2 separate regions of the Homo sapiens genome follow, and region 1 is linked to region 2. Evidence: fine-mapped expression QTL. A gene starts in region 2. The other region holds a variant in brackets. All regions are shown on one strand. Distances are from middle to middle.

Evidence for each region. PIP is the estimated chance that this variant, and not a neighbour inherited with it, causes the effect.
Region 1: its variant is the best candidate, but not a certain one, in a credible set for the expression of SLC4A3 in thyroid (GTEx, PIP 0.64).

What each region holds. Positions count from the first base shown.
Region 1 is chr2:219,573,420-219,578,785 of GRCh38, reverse strand. INHA (inhibin subunit alpha) reads right to left here. Exons shown (of 2, transcript NM_002191.4): 2 at 3,075-4,092. The coding sequence ends at 3,260. Among named protein-coding and RNA genes, the nearest start is that of INHA, 3.8 kb to the right of the region's middle. RefSeq lists an enhancer at 1,646-2,221. The variant T/G (reference allele first, on the strand shown) is at 2,790.
Region 2 is chr2:219,624,568-219,629,923 of GRCh38, reverse strand. SLC4A3 (solute carrier family 4 member 3) reads right to left here and starts at 2,294. Exons shown (of 23, transcript NM_005070.4): 1 at 2,179-2,294; 2 at 1,881-2,024; 3 at 1,354-1,519; 4 at 503-780; 5 at 229-344. The coding sequence starts at 1,931. LOC124908064 (a long non-coding RNA gene) reads left to right here and starts at 1,914. Exons shown (of 2, transcript XR_007088701.1): 1 at 1,914-1,984. RefSeq lists enhancers at 387-1,088, 1,089-1,791.

The sequences.
Region 1 (5,366 bases), 51 kb after region 2:
GTTTTGTTTTGCATTGTTTTAAATAGAGACAAGGTCTCGCTTTGTTGCCCAGGCTGGTCTTAAATTCCCGGCCTCATACAATTCTCCTGCCTTGGCCCCCCAAAGTGCTGGGATTACAAGCATGAGCCACTGTGCCTATCTTTGTCCCAGGACTTTTGTAAGTGAACTCCCTCCTGCCGGACCAAGCTGCATAATGATGGGAGCCTGTGCTGCCTGGAGTTGCCATGGACCCAGGATGGAGCTGATCTGGGGGGAACTAGAGCCTATAGATGGATCCTAGTAGCATCTTTTGAGCCCAGAATTGAGCCATACCTTAGCTAGCTGTGCCTGTGGATTTATCATGAGCCAATGAGCCAGTGCTGGTGAGTTTTAAAAACTTTTTTTTTTTTTTTTGAGAGGAAGTCTCAGTCTGTCACCCAGGCTGGAGTGCAGTAGCGCGAACTCTGCTCACTGCAAGCAAGCTCCGCCTCCTGAGTTCAAGTGATTCTCCTGCCTCATCCTCCCAAGTAGCTGGGATTATAGGCAAGTGCCACCATGCCCGGCTAATTTTCATATTTTCTGTAGAGATGGAGTCAGAACTCCTAACCTCAGGTGATCCGCCCACCTCAGCCTCCCAAAGTGCTGGGATTACAGGCGTGAGCCACCGCGCCTGGCTTAAATACACTTTTTGATCTAATCCAGTTGGAGCTGGGTTTTCTGTTTAAACTGACTCCAAACTAAGAGTATTCACAGTACGTCCCTAATGATTAGCATTGGGAACAGGGATCATCTTTGAAATTCACTGCTCTTGGGCTGGTGTCTTGATGAGGATAGAAAACAAAACGATGTCCGTAGCCACTGTGGAGCCCCTCTTAGGGATCTGTGAACATCTTTCCTAATTTGCTGCGTTAGCAGAATCTAGGTATTAGAGACCTTAGAAGGAGTGGCTCCGAACAGTGACTGTCAGACATTGGGATCTCACAGATTTCACAGGGCAACAAAATTCCAAAGAAAAATCTTACATTCCAAACTGGAATTGCCAAGTTTAAATTTTGTTGGGTAGAAATGCAAACAAACAAAACCACTACTTTCTACCCTCTTCATAACATCATGAAAGAGCTAACACTGTCACACACCCACAAGCAGAAAAGGTAATGGGTAGCATTGAAAGATAGCCTTTATAAAATGAATATATTTGGCTTTGTGAAAGACTCCCTCATACTCATTTTTCTCATTTTGTCTCAGACATGTGCACGCTTTTCACTTGCAATACCAATCTGCTAACTGGCCTCGTGGAGAATCCTGTACCCCTCAGTAATCTGCCCCCAGCCCTCAGCGCCCATCCTCATCCCTGGGACAGGGAGCATCTGGATAACACAGGGTTCTAGGGGGCCCCAGCAGGAAGAATGAAGAGCTGAAGCCTAGTAGGAAAATTGAAGATCCCAGGGAAAGACCTCACTGTTTGGGAAGGGAGGATCTAGCCAGAGAAGCCAGGCAGGGAGCACGTAGAACATAGACAGGCTTGGAAAAAACCTCCCCTTCCCACCACTGGCAGAGCCCAAGCAGCTGTCTCCCCAGCCCACTGCCTGAATAGGGATGCACAGAGCTCTGAGCACAGAGCGCTTCCAATGCTGAGTCAACACGAAGGTCCTGGGAGAGGCTGGGGACTGCAAACAAGCAGGTTTCCCCCTCCAGAACAGTGACAGCCTTCTGGGGGACTCAGTGTCAACAGAGACTGGGGCGTGTACAGGAGCACGTACATGGCTCTGAAGGCTCCTGTGCTGCAGGGAACAGTGGCTCATTCAGGTTAGCTCCGGTGGGGGAGGGGTGTTGGTGTAACTGTGACGGGATAGGATTCTTTCCCGCTGCACCGCTCACTGGAGCAGGCGCTTACCCTTCCACCCCATCAAGCCAGGCTGGTAGAAAGGAGTCTTTGACCAGTAAAAGACTCTGGTTAGATAAATACACACTGTAGTTGTGCAGTCAATATCAGAAAGTGCTCTCAAGTTCCAGTCTGATGGACCTGAACATCCCAGCCCTTCCCCTAAACACACACACACAAACACACACACACACACACACACACACACACGTGTTGGAGACTGGATGGAACCAGTGGCTGATAGCAGGGACCCTGGGGTGGAGCACAAGGATAACGAGACCCAGGGGGATAACAAGGAGAGTGAAAAAAGCAGGGAGGAAGGCCAGCGGAGAGGGGCTTCCCCATGCCCAAATCCGGAGGCAGAATGGACTGATAGGAAACGCAATGAAAAAAGAAAAGTGCTGTTTTGCACCATGTCCTGCATGCACAAATTCACAAAAGAGCTTTTCTATTTTCTGGCAATAGCCTCAGTCTTTCCACTCTTCTGATGCTAAGGGCTGAGTTAAGGGATTATGTAAACATGTACAGGTGACATCAAGGGAGACAAAGAGTTCATGAACTAGAATCCTACTGCAGGAGGCCTCACGGAGTCTACAGCAAGAGTCAGTGACGGATTCAAAGAAGGGCCTTTGGCAAAAGGAAATCCTCAGGTCTTTGGTCAGGTGATCTGTCTGACCTTAACACAACACCACCTCTTTGCCCTTGTTAATTTCTTTCTGATGCTGCCAACACATATATCTCTCCCTTACATCCCACCCAAGCTTCCCAAGTAACTCCAAGGTCTGGCCAACTCTGGACAATTGTCTCAGTGGGACTCCAAAGGCCACAGTCTCTGGCCAGGCTACAAATCACCTGACCTCGGGCTAAGTGCCCATCAGCTGTGGCAGAGAATGGCAGGGGAGGGGACTTATGGCTGCCTTGGATGTGG[T/G]CATGTGAGTGCAGCAGTCTCCCTTAGGTGTGCAGGGCAGGCAACCTGATTGACATGTCTGGTTCAGCTTGCATGCGTCCAGCTCTGTCTCCAAGGTGGCTCTCCAAGGAGCTTGGAGCACTATTATGTCACCCCCAAGCGTTGTAGATTCCCAACCAATACACATCCAGTTATAGCTCTTGAACTTCATGTCTCTGAGGTCAAGTGTGGCTGAGTGACCTGAGATCTGACAGTCCCATGCTCCTGGGGGCCCAACTCCATATCAGAGAAGCTGGAGAACATATGTCAAGTCATATGCACTGTGTTCTTTATTGAGATAGAAGTGGGGTGGGGAGGGTAGCCCATAGGCAGAGAAGTGAAAGGAGGGAGGAGTGGGAGCCATCTATTTCCCAACTCTGCCTTTCCTCCCAGCTGATGATGGTGGGGGCGTGGCCACCAGCCATGGGATTAAGAAGGAAGACCCCCCACCCTTAGATACAAGCACAGTGCTGCGTGAGAAGGTTGGGCACTGTCTCATACTTGAAAGAGTAACCTCCATCCGAGGTGGTGCGGACATGTAGGGGCCTCATGGTCCCTGGGAGAGCAGCACAGCAGGGCTGGGCCCCTGGCAGCAAGGAGTAGGGCTGGGCTGGGGTAGGGGGAGCCCCAGGGACTGGAAGGGACAGGTTTGGTGGGATGTGCAGCCCACAACCACCATGACAGTAGTGGAAGATGAAACTGGGAGGGTACACGATCCACCGTTCCCAGCCCAGCTCCTGGAAGGAGATGTTCAGTGCTACTCTGTGGCAGTTGGCATGGGCAGCCGGTTCCTCCGGAGGCCTCTGCAGCAGGCGCAGAGCAGAGGGAGACCAAGGCCAGGACATCAGGGGAGTTGAGCGTCGGGCTCTCTCCCCTCCACTGGGTGGTCTGGTCCGAGTGTGGGCCACCAGGAAGGGCGTGGCCTCAGGCCGGGCTGAGCAGGTACAGAGGGGACAGCGCAGCAGCAGCACCAGGACGGGGTGGGTCAGCAGAGAGAGAGCAGAGGTGGCCAGGTGCAGCACGGCCCAGTGAGGGGGAGCATGGCCCAAAGACATGGGCACAGCCACGGGTCCTCCCGGTGACAGTGCCAGCAGGCCTAGCAGGGGCTCAGAGCTATTGGAGGCTGCTGTGCCCTGCCTGTCCAGCCCGGTGTGGAACCACAGCTGGGCTGAAGTCACCTGGCGGCTGCGTGTATGCTGGGATGGCCGGAACATGTATCTGAAGAGGCCCTCCTCAGCCTCCTGGGCCAGCCCTCTGGCAGCTGACTTGTCCTCACAGCTGGCATCTGCAGGAGACAGAAGAAAAGGGAGAGGGCAGCCCTGACTGGCAGGACCTGGCACCCCTCCTCTTCAGCAGGAGGGATGTGGCCACCAGTCATGAGCCAATGATGGGCTGCACTCTGCTCCACGCCCTCCGGGACGTGGGGACTCTCCTGAGTTTTGGGAGAGCTTCTGTAGGCTTCCCATTTTTTAATTTCATCATGAAGGGACTTAAAAAAATAGAAGACATTGCCAACTTCTCTCTGAAGTGGTTTTACCAATTAACATGCCCATCAGCAGTGTGTAAGAGGCCCTCTCTCCACTTCACCAGCACTAAGACTTTGTATTAGACTTCAATGCTTACTCACCAGATAGTGTGAAACAGTATCCTGAATGGTGTCTACATGGATGGTTGTTATATTCTTTTTTTTTTTTTTTTTTGAGACAGAGTCTTACTGTGTCACCCAGGCTGGAGTGCAGTGGCATGATCACGGCTCACTGCAGCGTCTACCTCCTGGGCTCAAGCAATCCTCCCACCTCAGCCTCCTGAGTAACTGAGACCACAGGCGTGTGCTACCACACCTAGCTAACTTTTGTGGGTTTTGTAGAGACAGGGTCTCGCTATGTTGCCCAGGCTGATCTCAAACTCCTGAGCTCAAGCAATCTGCCTGCCTTCACCTTCCAAAGTGCTGGGATTATAGGCGTGAGCCATCACACCCAGCCATATTACCATTTTTTTTTTTTTTTTGAGATGGAGTCTAGCTCTGTCGCCCAGGCTGGAGTGCAGTGGCGCCATCTCGGCTCACTGCAACCTCTGCCTTCCGCTCCGCCTCCCACGTTCAAGCAATTCTCCTGCCTCAGCTTCCCGAGTAGCTGGTGCCACCATGCCTGGCTAATTTTTTGTATTTTTAGTAGAGACGGGGTTCACCATGTTAGCCAGGATAGTCTCGATCTCTTGACCTTGTGATCCTCCTGCCTTGGCCTCCCAAAGTGCTGGGAGTACAGACGTGAGCCACCGCGCCCGGCCTATATTACTCTTTATATCTTTGGCATGTCAGGAATATTGTAGGATAAATTCTTTAAAATAATTCCATTTTTAAAAGACAGGTTTACACCAAAAAAAAAAAAAAAAGAAGAAGGAGGGAAAGGCAAGTGGGAAAGGGAAGAAAATGGAGAACAAGGAAGAGGGGGAAGAGAAGGAGGAGGGCTGTAACTCAGAACAGAGGGCAGTCCTTTCAAGAATGTGTAGTTAGCATCCTCACACTGACACACTCATAGACTATACTAATCATCCTGGAGC
Region 2 (5,356 bases):
ACCTCTTCACTCTGCTCTTCTCTGTTTTTCTCCCCCCCCCCTTGTTCTCTCCTCCTTGTAAATCATGAGGACAGAGAAGGATCCCCACCCCCCTCCCACACCCTGCTCCTCTTTTCTCAGGGTCAGAGCTGGGGACACTCCCCAGGGTCAGGAAGGAGGTGACTGCCAGGAGCTCTGGACCCTGTGGCTCTGGGCTGGGCCCTGCTGAGTAGAGGCTGCAGCCAGTACCTGCTGGAGTGCTGGGGGCTCTTGTCAGTGTGTGGGCCCACCGAGGGCAGGGGCTTGGTGACAGCAGCCCTCCCAGGGAGGCCTGGACTGTCATCCTCGTCACTTCCAATGGAGAACTGCAGACATAGAATGTGCCCTGGGGCCTTGCCCCGACCTACCATACAGCCCCCAACCCTACCCAGCCTCACACAGGCCCCCAACACGCACTCCTCTCCTCCTCTCTGTACCCCTCCCTGACCCCTGACCTGCCACCCCTCCAAAGGGAAGCCCCTACCTTTGCCTTCTGTGGGGTCCCTGAGTGGGGGGGCTCCACAGGTTCTGCCTCAGATTCTCCTTCCTCTTCCTCCTCTTCCTCCTCTTCCTCATCCACTCCAGCTCCCCCCTCCTCCTGGATGGGAGGGGTCCCCTCGGAGGGAGGAGCAGAGGTTTTCTCCTTCTTCCTCTTTCTCCTGGTGTGCCGGGCAGAGGTGGGGGGCAGCCGCCGCAGCTTGTGGGGTGGAGGCAGGCGCGCTGAGAGCGGGTGGTGGGTGTGGTGGGATGTGTGCCGGTGAACTGGGGGTGCAGGAGATCCGGTTGAGGCCCCCACAGCAGAAACAGGGGCCCTCCCCACCCGAGGGCACACACCTTCCAGCTCAAGGCCGCAAACAAGGGCACCCTAGTCCTTCCTCCAGGGCCATGACCCCCCAACACCTGTGTCCACGTGCCTGTCATTGATGAGGTCTGGTGGAGTGGGAGGAGAGGGTGGATGGACAGGGAAGGTCATGAAGGGGGCTGGGAGGGGAGACGTGATACAGCAAGGAGGGGAAAGGCGGAGTTGGACTAGCCGAGGTGGGACAAGGAGGGAGTGAGTGGGGACGAAGGGGAAGGGGAAGGTCACCGTGGAAGGGCCCAGGCCCAGCTCCCTAGATCTCCCCTGGTCTGGGGCCCACCTCCCCAGGCAGGCGGACAGGCGATGGGTGGGGGAGGCAGGATGACTGAACACGGCATGTGGCCCAGCACAGAGTCCAGCACAGTGTCCGGCACAGGATGGCACTGGGTGACCAAGCCGGAGGTGAGCGCGGTGATGGTGGCGATGAAGGTGATGGTGGCGAGGGCGGCCGCACTAGGGGTCCCCAGGCTACCCACACTCAAAGTCCCGCTCGCTGTAGCTGCGGCTGGGCTTCTCGGGGTCCCAGGCCGGGGGCTTGCTGATGAGGTCCCCAAACCTGCTCACAGCCAAGGTCTTGCCCAAGTCATCGTCCTCCTCCTCCACGTCTGGACTTAGAGGGGGCTCCTCCAAGGGCACCCGGACCTGCAGGCCCAGACGGCCTCTGCTAAGGACCCCTGACCCATGAAGGCCCCACACCCACCCCAACTCCAAGCCCTAGTTGGGGGAGCTCAGCAGGCTCTCACACCATCGGGCCCCCTCCCCTTGCTCCCAGGCCTGTGTCAGCATCCCAGAAACCACCCTCTCTGGGCTCCCAGAGCTTGTAAAGAGAGAGGGCTACGGATCTGGAAAATATCAAAAACCCCCCTCTTTCTCCGTAACCCCCAGCCCAGCTCATCCCTGGATCTGGGGGGTCCCGGGGTCGGCCAGAGGACTCCTCTGCCCACCCTAAGGTCCCTCCCCTCTCCTCCCCCATCTCTCCCCCGCCCCCGCGCGCGCCGATCACCTGGGGTAGGGGGGAGGCGCCCCCGGGCGGCGGGATCACTCCGTTGGCCATGGCCAGGTAGGCGGCTGGGGACGCTCTCGCTCACTAGGGGACCCGAGACCCAGGTGAGAAGGAGGGGCCACTGAGGGGGCCTAGCGGGGAGCCCTGGGGGAGGAGGGCGGGGTCAGGTTCCTTGCGCTGGCGCCCCCCACCCGGGAGCCGGATGCACGCTCCCGGCCCAAGCGCCCCTCCGAGGCCCAGCCACGCCCGGGACAGCCCGGGTCCCCCGCCCTGCCCGGCGTGCCCCGCCCCGCGGTACCTCGGGGCTCCGGAGCCTGCGAGGCCCAGGCGGGCCGCCGCGCCCCATGTCCCCCGCGCTCTCTCCCGAGCGCAGCCGCGACTGCCGTCCGGCCTCTCGCAGCGCAGAGCCGGGCTGGCCGGGCGGACGCAGGCGCCGGAGCCCGCAGCCCGCGGCTCCACCTCCTCGCGCTCCGCTCCGCACCTCCGCCGCCGCCGCCGCCGCCGCCGCCGCCGCCGGGCCGCACAATGGGAGCGGGCGGGCCGTGACTCACCCCGCCCCGGCCGGCGCGGCCCCCACGCGCGGGCCCCGCAGCACCCCACCTGCCCGTGCGCCCCTTCTCCAGGCGCCCCACGCATCGCTGGGGGCTGGGGCGCGGCCCGATATTCCCACAATCCCCCAGATTCGCTCCCCAACCCTGCTTTTAGCCTCCCCTCCCCTCCAGAGCCCAGGAAGCCACCCCCTCCGCAGACACAGGCCCCTCCAGTCTTGGGAACGGAGCTCACAGACCCCTGGAAGCACCCACCACCTCCCCTTTCATTTCTACCACAGCCTTGCCTCTCAAAGGCCTGGCTTCTGTCGCCTGGCACCACCCAACGTTTGACCTTGACACAGTACCTCCCCTCCTCCCGCCTCAGCTTCCCCAGCTGTAGCGAGAGGGGCCTGCAATAGGGGTGTTCCAAAGTTCTATGCAACTCTAAGACTGTGTGGCTCCGTTTCCACATTTCCTCTCCCTTCTCCCCCTATCCCTGAGGTCACATCTCATTTTCCAAGGGCAAAAGGTCTTTCGAAGGAGCCACTGGACCCCAATCGGCCCCTATCCCGAGATCAATGAAACTGGACTTCTACACAGTGCGATGCCATAACAGCCCTGTGACCTTGGTACTTCACCGCGTCTGACCCCTGGCCTCATCTAGATCTCAGCTCAACCCAAGGAAAGATTTTCTGTGTGCATAGCCTTCCAAGGGGAAGGGAGCTAGGATCTGTTGGACGCCCACATTGTCTTGTGTGTGCTCACAGTCCTGTGCTAGGTTGGCCCTCTCCAGACTGGCTGCCTCGTCTCAGGCATAATAATAAGAGGAGCTGTTATGATTCCCATTTGGTCGGCAGAGGACAGTGGAGACTCAGGGAGGCTCGTTACCTGCCATGGTCACAGCTGGAAAGCAGGCTGCCGACAGGTTTGGGCATCATTATCCATGTATTGAAGTGACTCTCCAAGCCACAAACAAAATTTTTAACTGAAAGAGATGAACTGTCCTCCTAAGTCTCACATGGTGAGTCCCAAGGTGGGAATTCCTAGGGTGGGAATCAGCTATGCCTAGGCAGAGCACAGCTGTGCCCCAAAACTCAGAATGGGAGACCCAGCTGTTGGGAGTTGAGTAGTGTCCCCCAAAATTTATACGTTGAAGTCCTAACCCCTGGTACATCAGAGTGTGCCCTTATTTGGCAATAACGTTCTTGCAGATGTTAAGATAAGGGTGGACTCATCCATTATGACTGGTGTTCCAGTGAAAAGGGGAAATTGGCCAGGTGCGGTGGCTCACACCTGTAATCCCAGCACTTTGGGAGGCCAAGGCGGGTGGATCACGTGAGATCAGGAGTTCGAGACCAGCCTGGCCAACATGGTAAAACCCTGTCTCTACTAAGAATTAGCTGGGCGTGGTGGCACACGCCTGTAATCCCAGCTACTCAGGAGGCTGAGGCAGGAGAATTGCTTGAACCCAGGAGGCAGAGGTTGCAGTGAGCAGGGATCGTGCCAGTGCACTCCAGCCTGGGTGACAGAGCAAGACTCCATCTCAAAAAAAAAAAATATATGTATATATATATATGGGGGAAATTTGGACAAAGAGACGTGCATTCAGAGAACGCTTTGTGAAGACTGGAGTTATGCTGCCACAAGCCAAGGAACTACCAAAGCTAGGAGAGAGGCCTGGAACAGATCCTTCCCTAGTCCCTTCAGAGAGAGCCTAGCCCTGCAGACACCTCGATGTCTGGCTTCTAGCCTCCAGATCTGTAAGACAGTAGATTTCCATTGTTTAAGCCACTGGGTTTATGATACTGTGTTACAGTAGCCCTAGCAAACCAGAGCTATCCCAATTCTTTATTCCTCTGAGCCAGGCAATGTGGTTCCAAGTCCCTACCTTGAATTTTGTTTTGGTAGGGCCTTCACGTCCTTAGAGACACTCAAGAGCCTTGGAACCTTTCCTGGTCGGCATTGCACAGGGGCTCTGGTCTTCAATCCACCTCGACATTGTGTTCCCAGCCCCGCTCCTCTAGTCTGTAAAGTCAGACAGCAGTTACTTTAATACTGAGACAGCCTGAGAAGGGTCTTGCCAACCAGGGACCCCTGGTGTACCAGGCCATGTACATCCTGCACACCAAGATGCCATAAGGGTGTCACAGGACTTGTCCCTCTGAGGTTCCATCCACCCCAGAGAGGATGCTGAGCACAGGCCCTCAACTTTTGGTAGCCCCAGACCCCCATTCTTTCAGTTGGAGACCCGCACCCCACCCAGAGTCTGAGGCTTCGTTCTCTACCCTTACAGACCTTCCTCTCTCCTCCACCCCTCTGAGATGATGGAGTAAAATCTCCCCTTGAAGAGCCTTTAGACACCCATGTTTATCTCTTTCTTTCCAGGCTGGGGGGAGTAAGATGATGCTGACACCCACCAACTCATCCTATTAGACATAAACGCATGCTTTCATTAGGCCCGCTCTCGTCTTTGACATCCTGCCTGCGGCGCACCTGTAATTGTCAGTCCCCTACAGTGTGTTCCCGATGGGGTCTTCATTTCTGTGACAAAAGAGCACTCCTTGCATGCACAAAGGATGGCCACTCTGGGTATGTGTCAGCTTCTAGCTTACAGCCTGTAGACACTGAAATGGTGACAGGAAAGGTGACAGCAAAGGCTGAAGCCAGCGACAGGCCAGCTTAGAGCAGTAGCCAACTGTCACACCCTTCCTCACAGTCCAGTCTCACAGGAATGTCCCCACCCTGCATGCTGGCAGCATAGGACACTTGTCTGCACATGCAGCAGCACCACAGCCTGTCCCTTAGGTCCGAAGGAGCAGGAGCCATCCCGCCACACCACCCAGATTTGGAGGCAAAGCACACCGTTCTCTGGGCTCCCCATGAATGGGCCAGAAGCCCTCGGGTGGATTCCTCTGATTCTGTTCCCTGAAATCACTCTGCGGGTCC